2 separate regions of the Homo sapiens genome follow, and region 2 is linked to region 1. Evidence: fine-mapped expression QTL. Tissue or cell type: whole blood. Region 1 holds a variant in brackets; the other region holds the start of a gene. All regions are shown on one strand. Distances are from middle to middle.

Evidence for each region. PIP is the estimated chance that this variant, and not a neighbour inherited with it, causes the effect.
Region 2: DNAAF5 starts here. The variant in region 1 is fine-mapped to the expression of DNAAF5 in whole blood (TOPMed, PIP 0.96).

The regions. Positions count from the first base shown.
Region 1 is chr7:774,645-779,818 of GRCh38, reverse strand. DNAAF5 (dynein axonemal assembly factor 5) reads right to left here. Exons shown (of 13, transcript NM_017802.4): 11 at 4,657-4,813. Among named protein-coding and RNA genes, the nearest start is that of PRKAR1B, 50 kb to the right of the region's middle. The variant T/C (reference allele first, on the strand shown) is at 2,959.
Region 2 is chr7:723,564-728,687 of GRCh38, reverse strand. DNAAF5 (dynein axonemal assembly factor 5) reads right to left here and starts at 1,989. Exons shown (of 13, transcript NM_017802.4): 1 at 1,373-1,989. The coding sequence starts at 1,967. PRKAR1B (protein kinase cAMP-dependent type I regulatory subunit beta) reads left to right here and starts at 1,407. Exons shown (of 11, transcript NM_001164760.2): 1 at 1,407-1,478. RefSeq lists silencers at 1,127-1,206, 1,247-1,356, 1,417-1,466, 1,717-1,916.

The DNA.
Region 1 (5,174 bases):
ACTCCGTGCATCCCGAGCCACATGCAAGGTGCTCCTGGCGACCTGGGACCCCTGAACCCCAGCCAACAGAGTGGAGGCGGCCCAGGCCCTGCTGCGGCCCCTGTAATAACCTGTCCTGCAGGCGCAGAGCCTCCCTGTAGCTGTAGCTGTGTGCTCACCTGGTCCTCCACCTCCTCGCAGCTGTGTGCTCACCTGGCCCTCCACCTCCTGCTCCCAGATGCTCAGATCCCCGAGCTGGCCACCCTGCCCAGCTCTGACCCTGCCCTCCCACCAGAGCTGAGGACTCAGTGACAGACAACCCCCTACTGTGGTCAGTTTTCTGCTGCTGAAAACAGAAGGATGATCCTTCCCGATGGGTAGAAACTTATGAGGTTAATGGACATAATTTTTATCAAATTTATGCTTTTTTTACATCATCTTAAAAAAACTTTGGCACCCCCTTCTGTGCAGCATCCGGAAATTCGCAGATGACTGAGTCGCAAAACCACCCGGAGGCCCATCTTCCCGACGCTGGGAGGGGCAGCTGCCCATGCCTGGCATGAGGCCCATCTTCCCGACGCTGGGAGGGGCGGCTGCCCGCGCCTGGCACCAGGCCCATCTTCCCGCTGCAGACGCGAGGGTGGGCTGGGTCTCTGATGCTTTTGCAATGTGGAGGGCATGATCCACCCTCAGCAAGAGGATCCTATGTAACGAAAGGCATGAAAAACATCCAAAGTTCAGGCCATCCTACCAAGCCAGGCTTTGAGACAAGTGGGACCCAGTGGGTTAATTCCTGGCAGATGCCCAGGCACTTCCCTGAGGGTTCTGGGCCCTGAGGGTGCTGGGCCTTCCAGCCACCAAACACAGGCACCAAGGAGGAAGCCACGGAGCACATCCAGGCATTATGGTGCCAAACCCTGAAGCAGCCCTGCACGGCAGGTGCCCTCACTGCACAGCGGGTATGCTCACTGCACAGCGGGAGCCCTCGCTGCATGGGGGGTGCTTTTGCTGCATGGGGGGTATGCTCACTGCACGGCAGGTGCCCTCACTGCACAGGGGGTATGCTCACTGCACGGCGGGAGCCCTCGCTGCACAGTGGGTGCCCTCGCTGCACGTGTCTCAGGAGGAAGGACGGAGTCAGATGCTCAACTCACCCAAGCTTGTCCCGCTAGCAAACATCTATGGGCCCGGACAGGATCCTCCGAGGCCTCCTGCTGGCGCGGTCGACTATGGAAGTACACAGAGTGGCACTGGCTATTGTGTTTTTACGATGGTCACTCCCTGGATGGCCTGCAGGTCCACTTTTGTACCAGTTTAGGGTTCCTTTCATGCACGACTAAGCCAGGCAGAATCGGCTCACGCTGGCCTGTCTGCTGTTCATGTTTGTGTCTGTCTGTCCTGGGAGGCCTGGATGTCTGTGCTCCCAACTCAGGACATCCTTCCTTCCCCACCAAGGAGGCCATGATTCATCCAACACTTCACCCTGGGAAGCCCAGAGCTGGCACTAATAGGCAAGGGGCCTCTCAAGGAACCTTTTGTAGTGAAAATAAACAGGGGGCCGTGGCCCAGATGCCCAAATGCGCTCAGATGCCCAAACGCGTGCAGCCTTTCCGCCAGCTCCTGTTTTAAAAAGTGAGTGAATTCCCAACAATCGCATGGACTGAACTTGTTCCAGAGTCAGTGGGAACAGGATGTTTGTTACTAAAGAATAAAAACAGAAAAGCAAAGGTGAGAGAATGAGTGACAAAGGCCCCCGGACCTCAGAGTTCAGCAGGCGGCGGTTTTTCTGCCCAGCGCCGTGTGTACTGTGAATCTGAAAATTCATGTCTGTCTCCAGTTCTGGAAGATTCTGAGGCACCATCTCTCCTCCATTCTCTTCTCCTGGGATTCAGAAAAGCCCGGGAGCCTCTCGGCCCACTCGGCACCTCTCTCCATCCCGTGTCCTCTGCCCGCTCCAGGCCCCGCGTCCCTCCCCGTCCCGTGTCCTTCGCCCACTCCAGGCCTTGCACCCCTCTCTGTCTCGTGATCTTGAGGAATTCCACATTCCTGGCTTTCACGTCACTAACTTTGTTTTCAGCCACATTCAGTCTAGAGTTGACCCAGTACACAGAGTGTGAAGTTCCGATGACTCCATTCATTTCCGGGAATTAGCAAGAACCATCTTTTAAAAACTGCTAAACATTTCTGGCATAAATACACAAAATATAGATAATCACATTAAGTAGAGCTAATCAGGAACGCCTGAGTGGCCGCTTCCCGCCCACCCCATCCCCTTTCTCCCTCGCTGGGTAACTCCTTTCCTCAAAGTAGTGCCAGCACACCATTCCGTGTCACTCCGGACTTCCCAGCGATCGCTTCCGTTTCCATCTGTTCTTTATTCCTGCTTGTCTTCTTGTTTCTCAACTTGTTTTTTAGTGGATGTTGTTCTTTTAGCTTTTTGAGGATCTTAAACACGCCTCAATAAAGGTAACTTTGAGGTGGTTCTATTATCGGCACTTCCTTCCCGGGCTGGGTGCGAGGCTGCCCTTAGCGCCGGGTCTTCGGTGTTCTGAGGTAGCAGTCCCCAACCTTTTTGGCACCAGGGGCTGGTTTCATGGAAGACAATTTTCCATGGACCAGGGGGTGAGATGGTTTCAGGATGAGTCACGTGCGTTACGTTTATTGTACACGTTATTTCTATGACTACATTGTAACATATAATGAGATAATTCTACAACTCATCATCCTGTAGAATCAGTGGGGGCCTGAGCTTGTTTTCCTGCAACTAGACGGTCCCATGTGGGGACGATGGGAGACAGTGACGGATCATCAGGCATTAGTTTCATAAGGAGCGTCAGCTTGGATCCCTCGCGTGCACAGTTCACAATAGGATTTGTGCTCCTATGAGAATCTAATGCCGTTGCCGATCTGACAGGAGGCAGAGCTCAGGTGGTAATGCAAAAGATGGGGAGCAGCCGTAAACACAGATGAAGTTTCGCT[T/C]GCCCACCTCTCACCTCCTGCTGTGCAGTCTGGTTCCTAACAGGACCCGGACAGGTACTGGCCCATGGCCTGGGTGGCGGGGGCCCTGTCCTGAGGGGTTTGTGTGCAGGCTGCCCTGAGTGAGGGGCTCTCTGAATTCATGACTCTGTTCAGTGCTGCTGCTTTTCGGGGGCTTCAAGCCAACCACCCCATTCCCCTCCCCAGTGCTTGCTCTCACCTGGGGTTGGTCTGGGGTTTGGGCTCCAGGAGGCGGCGACACTGAGGCTGTGCCCCTGGTCCTGCTGCAGGGTGGCCCGGCCCCGTCTCCCCACAGGCAGCTCCAGCCGCCCCACCCTGAGGTCCCCCTTCCCGGCCGCGTGGAAGCTGAGCCTTGTCACCCCCACCCAGTGCTGGTTTGGAGACCTCTGCCTTGCTTCTTGCTGTGCCGTTTAATTTGTGGTATTTCATCTGTCATTGCTGTTTGTTCTCATAGTACCAACTTGAACAGAAGTCAAAGATGAGCATTTTCTATTTTCTTTTTTTTTTGAGATGGAGTCTGGCTCTGTCACCCAGGCTGGAGTGCAATGGTGCGATCTTGGCTCACTGCAACCTCCACCTCCTGAGTTGAAGCGATTCTCTTGCCTCAGCCTCCTGAGTAGCTGGAACTACAGGCGCGCACCACCATGTCCAGCTAATTTTTTTATTTTTAGTAGAGACAGGGTCACCATTTTGGCCAGGATGGTTTCTATCTCTTGACTTTGTGATCCACCTGCCTCAGCCTCCCAAAGTGCTGGGATTACAGGCGTGAGCCACCGTGCCCGGCCACGTTTTCTGCTTTTTTTCTATAAAACAAGCCACCATCAAACTTAAATACAGTCGTCCCTTGGTATCTGTGGGGTTTGGTTCCAGGAATCCTCCTCCTCTAGGATACCAAAATCCTCAAATGCTCAAGTCTCTGATAAAAAAAGGCATAGTATTTGCACATGACCCACACACATCTTCCGGCACACCTTAAACTGTCTCTAGATTACGTTTAACGCTAAATGTAACATCCACACGACGCTTCCTTCACGTGGGTTCAACGTTGTTTTAAGGCAGAACGCAACGTCCACACGACGCTTCCTTCACGAGGGTCCAATGTTGTTTTAAGGCCGAATGCAATGTGTACATGATGCTTTCTTCATGCGGGTTCAACGTTGTACTTGGTGCCCAACAAATTCAAGCTTTGCTTTTTGGAACTGTGGAATTCTGCCCCCCAATACATACATATTTATATATGCAAATGTAAGTACAAATTTGTATTTGTATGTATAAATGCACAAACATGTATATATGTAGCCATACACACACACACACACACACACACACACCCCTACTTTTAAAGACAAGGTTTTGGTCTGTTGCCCAGGCTGGGCTCAAGCGATCCTCCTGCCTCAGCTTCCTGAGTAGCTGGGACTACAGGTGTGTGCCACCAGCCCTGGCTAATTTTTAAATTTTTTGTTGAGATCGGGGTATGGCTATGTTGCCCAGGCTGGTCTCAAATTCCTGGGCTCAAGCAACCCTCCTGCCTAAAGTGCTGGAATTAAAGGTGTGAACCACCACACCCAGCCCGAGATAGTTTTGATCTGAGTTTGGGTGACTCCATGGATGCAAACGGAACCCAGGGACACGGAGGGCTGACTGCATATACACAGGCTGTGAACAACAGAAATGTCCTACCAGGATAAATCCTGATGAGTTTCTCTGGATCCGTCATGCCGCCCGAGGTTTTTAAGAACGTGTTGATAATACGGCATGAGATCAGTCGCGTCATCTTCGAATCCTCCTCCAGGGTGGTCAGGACCTGGGGCATCAGTGTTTCCTGCACGTCCCGTATCTGCAATCAGCAAACACATACGACGTGACTCACATCTGTCCTGGGGTGGGGTGGGGGTGCTCACCATCCGTGCACTCCTGCCTGGAAGGACTTAGGGGGCTTGAAAGCTTTACCTAAAAAGTAGGCTTGAATCTTCATTGTAAAATTTAGATTTTGAGCAATTTTTAACTTGCTTACTTGATTTTTAGAAAATACGCACACTGTTCACAACTCCTAGGTGAGGCACTAACCCTAAACCAGGGTAATGGCTCGCCTGGGCCCCAAGGACGTGGGGCTTTCGGCTGGAGCACCGACCGCACCACCCCGCGTGCACCAGGAGGTGGCGCTGATGCTGCACGGGCGCCCAGGGCAGCGCCTTCCC
Region 2 (5,124 bases), 51 kb after region 1:
GGAACCTACGGTCCAGGGAGGGAGCTCGTGGGGCTGATGTACAGACTGGGTAGGGAAGTGGTTGAGGATGAAGAAGAAATACATTAAATGCCAGGAATTCTCAATGGCCATGTCCATCCAGCCCAAGGTTCTTCCCCAAGCTCCACAGGAGTTCTGGACCATGTGAAATCCAAAGTTAACCAACGTGGAAATCTCGGCATTTCCCCAAGTCCAGCTCTTCCTCTACTTCTGGAATCTATTCTCCACGCAGCTGCAGTGATCTTTTAACAACCTGAACTCGGGTCTATCACTTCTATTGACACCCCCTGCACTTCCCACTACATTCAGACCATCACTGGGACATCACTGGGACGGCCTGAGCTGGCCAGATCCCTCACTGCTTTCCTGCTCCCTACCGCCCACGGATTTATAGCATCAGTGTTCCCTCCTTCGGAAAGCCTTCCCGCCAGCAGGAAGCAGGCGCCTGCTATCATTCCACATCCCAGCCAGGGGAGGGAAAGGGCAAGACCCTGCAGGAATGGCCAGCTAAGGAAAGGGAACGACCGGATCAGATCAGAGCTCTAAAAAAGATGGGGAACGTTATAAAGTGGAGGGGAGAAGCGGCCTCCTTCCACTTAGGACAGTGGTCCAAGCCAGAGCGGAAAGGCAGGGGAGTAGGATGAATGGGACAGAAAGTGAAATGACCAGAGCAGAGTCTCAAAGCGCGTGCCCTCAACCAGGTGCAAGTCCTGCAAGCCCCCGAGGGAAGGAAAGGGGGCAGCTATCAGGGCACACCCCACCCCAAACCGCCTAACAGGAATTTCTGCGGTGGTTTCCAGGTATCTGGACAGAAGCGCTGGCTCGTGGGCCCGGGTGGGGTGGAGGGGGCTCAGGCAGGGAGGAGGGTGGGAGGTGAGGGTCGCGGGAGGGCGGCGTGCAAGGAGGAGGATGGCACAGGATAGGCAGGTGGAGGGGGCACAGGGAGCAGGCAGGTGGGGGGCGGGGCTTGGGGCGTGGAGGGTGGAGGCGGGGAGCAAGGGGACAGGGGAGTGAGGTGAGTGAGGGCCAAGCAGGAACAGGGGTCACGGGGCAAGGAGCACGTGGCAGCGCAGGAAACAGGTACATGGGGGTAGAGGACAAGGGAGCAGCTGAAGGGCGCGTTGGTGGCGGGACGTGAGGCAGGGGAAGCAGTGGTGGTGGGAGGAGGGGGCCGGGCGGGGTGCTTTGGGGCAGGCGGGTGGGGGAAGCGGCGCATGGGGGGTCCGGGATGTTGGGGGGTGCGGGCGTGGAGGGGGGCGGGGCCGAGCCGCGGGGGTTGTGAGAGGGGCCGCGGAGGTGGAGGTGGGGGTGAGAGTGTGGGGTGGCGTGTGGGAGCGGGGCCCGGGGTGCTCACCGGGCGTGGCCTGCGCCAGGGCGGCGGCGCAGCTGCAGCTCTCGCGGCGCACGGCGGCGAAGGGGTCGAGCAGGGAGCAGCGCAGCGCGCGCAGAGCGTCGTCCAGGTGGGGCGCGAGCGCGGCGCCGCACAGGTCCACGGCCAGGCCCAGCAGCTGCACAAGCGCCAGGCGCAGCTCCTCACAGGCCTCGGGCGGGCGGCGCGCGGGCACGGGGCCGGCCAAGCGCGCGGCGAGCGCGGGCAGCAGGCGCGGCAGGGCATCGCGGGGCCGCGCGGCGCGGCGCAGGCCCAGATCCAGCAGGTGCACTGCCAGCGCGCGGCAGCCCTCGGCGGGGTCGCTCAGGCAGCGCAGCAAGCGCGGCAGCAGTAGGCGCGCCCAGGGGCCCTGGAAAGCGGTGGGGTCGGCGGCAGGGCCTGGCTCCTCCAGCGCGCGCCGCAGGGCCTCCAAGGCGCGCCGCCGGCCCGGCTTGCTGTCGGCCTCCAGCCCCGGCAGCAGGCGGCTCAGGGCGCGGCTCAGCTCCACCGCCTCAGCCGTCTCGGCCCCCTCAGCCGGGTGTGGGGCCGCCACGGCCTCCGCCACCCCCAGCGCCGCCATCTTGCCCGCGTCGCCGGTCACTAAGGGGAACAGCGCTTTCGCGACTCTCAGCGCAGATTACGGCAGCACTTCCGGTCCGCGCTGCGGGCGGGGCGCCGGGCTACTTCCTCCCCGCCGGTGCGCACGTGGGCCTGTGCTCTTGTCGTGCTCGCCCGCTGTCCCCCTCTGTCGCCGGAACCCCCGCCAGCCTGCCTGCTGGGCCTTGTCCTGTCCCCATTGTACAGATGGGGAAGGTCTCGGGAGGGTGCAGCTCGCCCGGGATGCGGGTCCCGGGCTATAGGCCTGGGCCTGCCCCTAGGGAAGCCTGCCCTGCAGCCTAGGGGGCTTGGAGAAGGAACCTGAGTGGTCCCGCCTGGGACCAGGGTAGCCGGGAAGCCCCTGTTTGAGCCGCCTAGAGCCCCTCTGGCTTTGGGAAGGTCCGTTCCAGGAGGGAAGGACGCTGGTTCTGTGGACTGGATCCCCCTGTGGTGTAAGACAGGTGCCTGGTCTGGGCTTCACGTGCAGCCTGTCATTAGATCTCAGGCGTAGCCGCCCAATAGGTTCGCCTTACTCGCTGCCCAGGTAGAGCCAATTTATCAAGACAGGGGAATTGCAATAGAGAGTTTAATGCATGCAGAAACTGGCTGCATGCAGAAACTGGCTGCATGCAGAAACTGGCTAAAGGACACTGGAGCTTTATTGCTCAAACCAGGTTCTGAAAATCCTGAGATGGGTCATCTAAGGATAATTAGGCAGGTAGGGGGCCAGGGAGAGGGCAGTGCTTATTGGTCGGGTTGGAGATGAAACCATGGAGAGTCAAAGTTGATTCTCTTGCTGTCTTCTGTTCCTGGGTGGGATCACAGAACTGGTTGAGCCAGATTAGTGGTGTGGGTGGTGGCACCTGGTGCATCAGAATGCAGAGCCTGAAAAATATCTTGAGCACCAATCTTAGAGTTGATGATAGTGGTGTTATCCTAAGGAGCAACTGGGGAGGTTTGGAATCTTGTGGCCTCTAGCTGCATGACTCAAACCACAATTTCTAATCTTGTGGCTCATGTGTTAGTCTTACAAAAGCATTCTGGTCCCCAGGCAAGAAGGAGGTTGGCTTCAGGAAAGGGCTGTTATCATCTTTGTTTCAAAGTTAAACTATAAACTAAGTTCCTCCTAAAGTTAGCTTGGCCTACTCCCAAGAAATAACAAGGCAGCTTGGAAATTAAAAGCAAGACAGTGTTTCACAGTAGTGACCTTGACTGTGGACTTGAGTGGAGACAGAGGCGCCTAAACAGCTTGGAGTCGGAGTTGCTGTGAGCCCAGCCTAGAACGCGAGTTTGACAGCACTCACTGCAAACCAGGAGTCCCCAAGTCTGGTTAGCCAGGCACTTCTCATCTGTGACCATGCACTGAGTTTTCTAAAGGCAGAATGTGTGTAATTTTAGGACAGAACTTCAAGTTTGACCTTCTTTTTTGTTGTTGATCTTCGTGTTGCAAAATGGTGGTGTTTGTCGGTACGTCTTTTTTTTTTTTTTTTGAGATGGAATCTTGCTCTGTCGCCCAGCCTGGAGTGCAGTGGCGCGATCTCCGCTCACTGCAGACTCTGCCTCCCAGGTTCATGCCATTCTCCTGCCTCAGCCTCCCAAGTAGCTGGGACTGCAGGTGCCCACGACCACGCCCAGCTAATTTTTTGTATTTTTAGTAGAGACGGGGTTTCACTGTGTTAGCCAGGATGGTCTCGATGTCCTGACCTCGTGATCCGCCCGCCTCAGCCTCCCAGAGTGCTGGGATTACAGGCGTGAGCCACCACGCCCGGCCCATCAGTACTTCTGAAAAGTTGTTATGTAGCATATTCAGTAACCTTCATTCATTGTTTCCTCCAACAGGCATTTGTTTGACCAGGCACTGTCTGCAACATGTGGGACAGGATGACAATGATGTAGAAACTGGCCATGGTCCCTGCTCTCCCAGATCTTAGGGTCTTGCAGGATGAGATAGCCCTTAATGGAAGGATAAATTAGTATGTGTTTAACCGTGGTGGTCCTGAGAGAATGAGTGTCAAGGGATGTTGAACTAGACTTTTAAGGCTTCCCTGAACAAATGGTAGCAGAGGTGAAATATGAAGAATAAGTAAACACAGTGTATTAGTCCATTTTCACGCTGCTAATAAAGACATGGCCGAGACTGGGTAACTTATACAGGGAAAGGTTTACTGGACTCACAGTTCCACATGGCTGGGGAGGCCTCACAATGATGGCCGAAGGCGGGAAGGAGCAAGTCACATCTTACATGATGGCAGCAGGCAAAGAGAAAATGAGAGAGCCTGTGCAGGGAAACTCCCCCTTATAAAACCGTCAGATCTCGTGAGACTTATTCACCATCATAGGAACAGCACAGGAAAGACCTGCCCCCATTATTCAGTTACCTCCCACTGGGTCCTTCCCACAACACGTGGGAATTGTGGGAGCTACAATTCAAGATGAGATTTGGGTGGGGACACAGCCAAACCATGTCACATAGCCAGGTGAAAGGGCGGAGGTGGGAGACGGGGAGTGTTGGAGAGAGAGGAAATAGCATGAGCAAAGGCCTCATGGGAGTGTTACGGGCTGAATGGCGTCTCCCCAAAATTCATATGCTGAAGTCCTAACCCCCATAGTTCAGGAAGTGATCCTGTTTGGAGACAAGGTCTTTGCAGACGTGATTGAGGTGAGATGAGGTCATGAGGTTGGGCACTCATCCAATATGACTGCTGTCCTCATAAAAGGAGAAATTTTGGAGATAGACGTGCATACAGGGAGAATGCAGTATGAGCATGAAGAGAGACCTCAAGAGGAGCCAGCCCGTACCCTGATCTTGAGAAATCAAATTTGTTTCATTCAGCTGCCCAGCCTGGTGTGCTTTGTTACGGCAGCCTCAGGTAGCAAACAGGGAGGGAGGCTGACCCTGGTCACAGGGGAGCAGGCAGGGAGTGAGCAGATGGGTGGGGCCAGGCCATGGGGGCCTCTGTCCTAAAACATGGCAGACTGAGGATTTCAAGGTGGGAGCATTGGCAAGATCGAGTCTGCATTTTTCAAGGACCCCTTTGGCTTCCGTTGAACGGATTGGTCGGGAGCCCTGGGAAGGCTGTGGCAGTGAGTGCTGAAGACGAGAAAGAATAAGCGCTTGAATTACGGTGGTGGGACTTCAC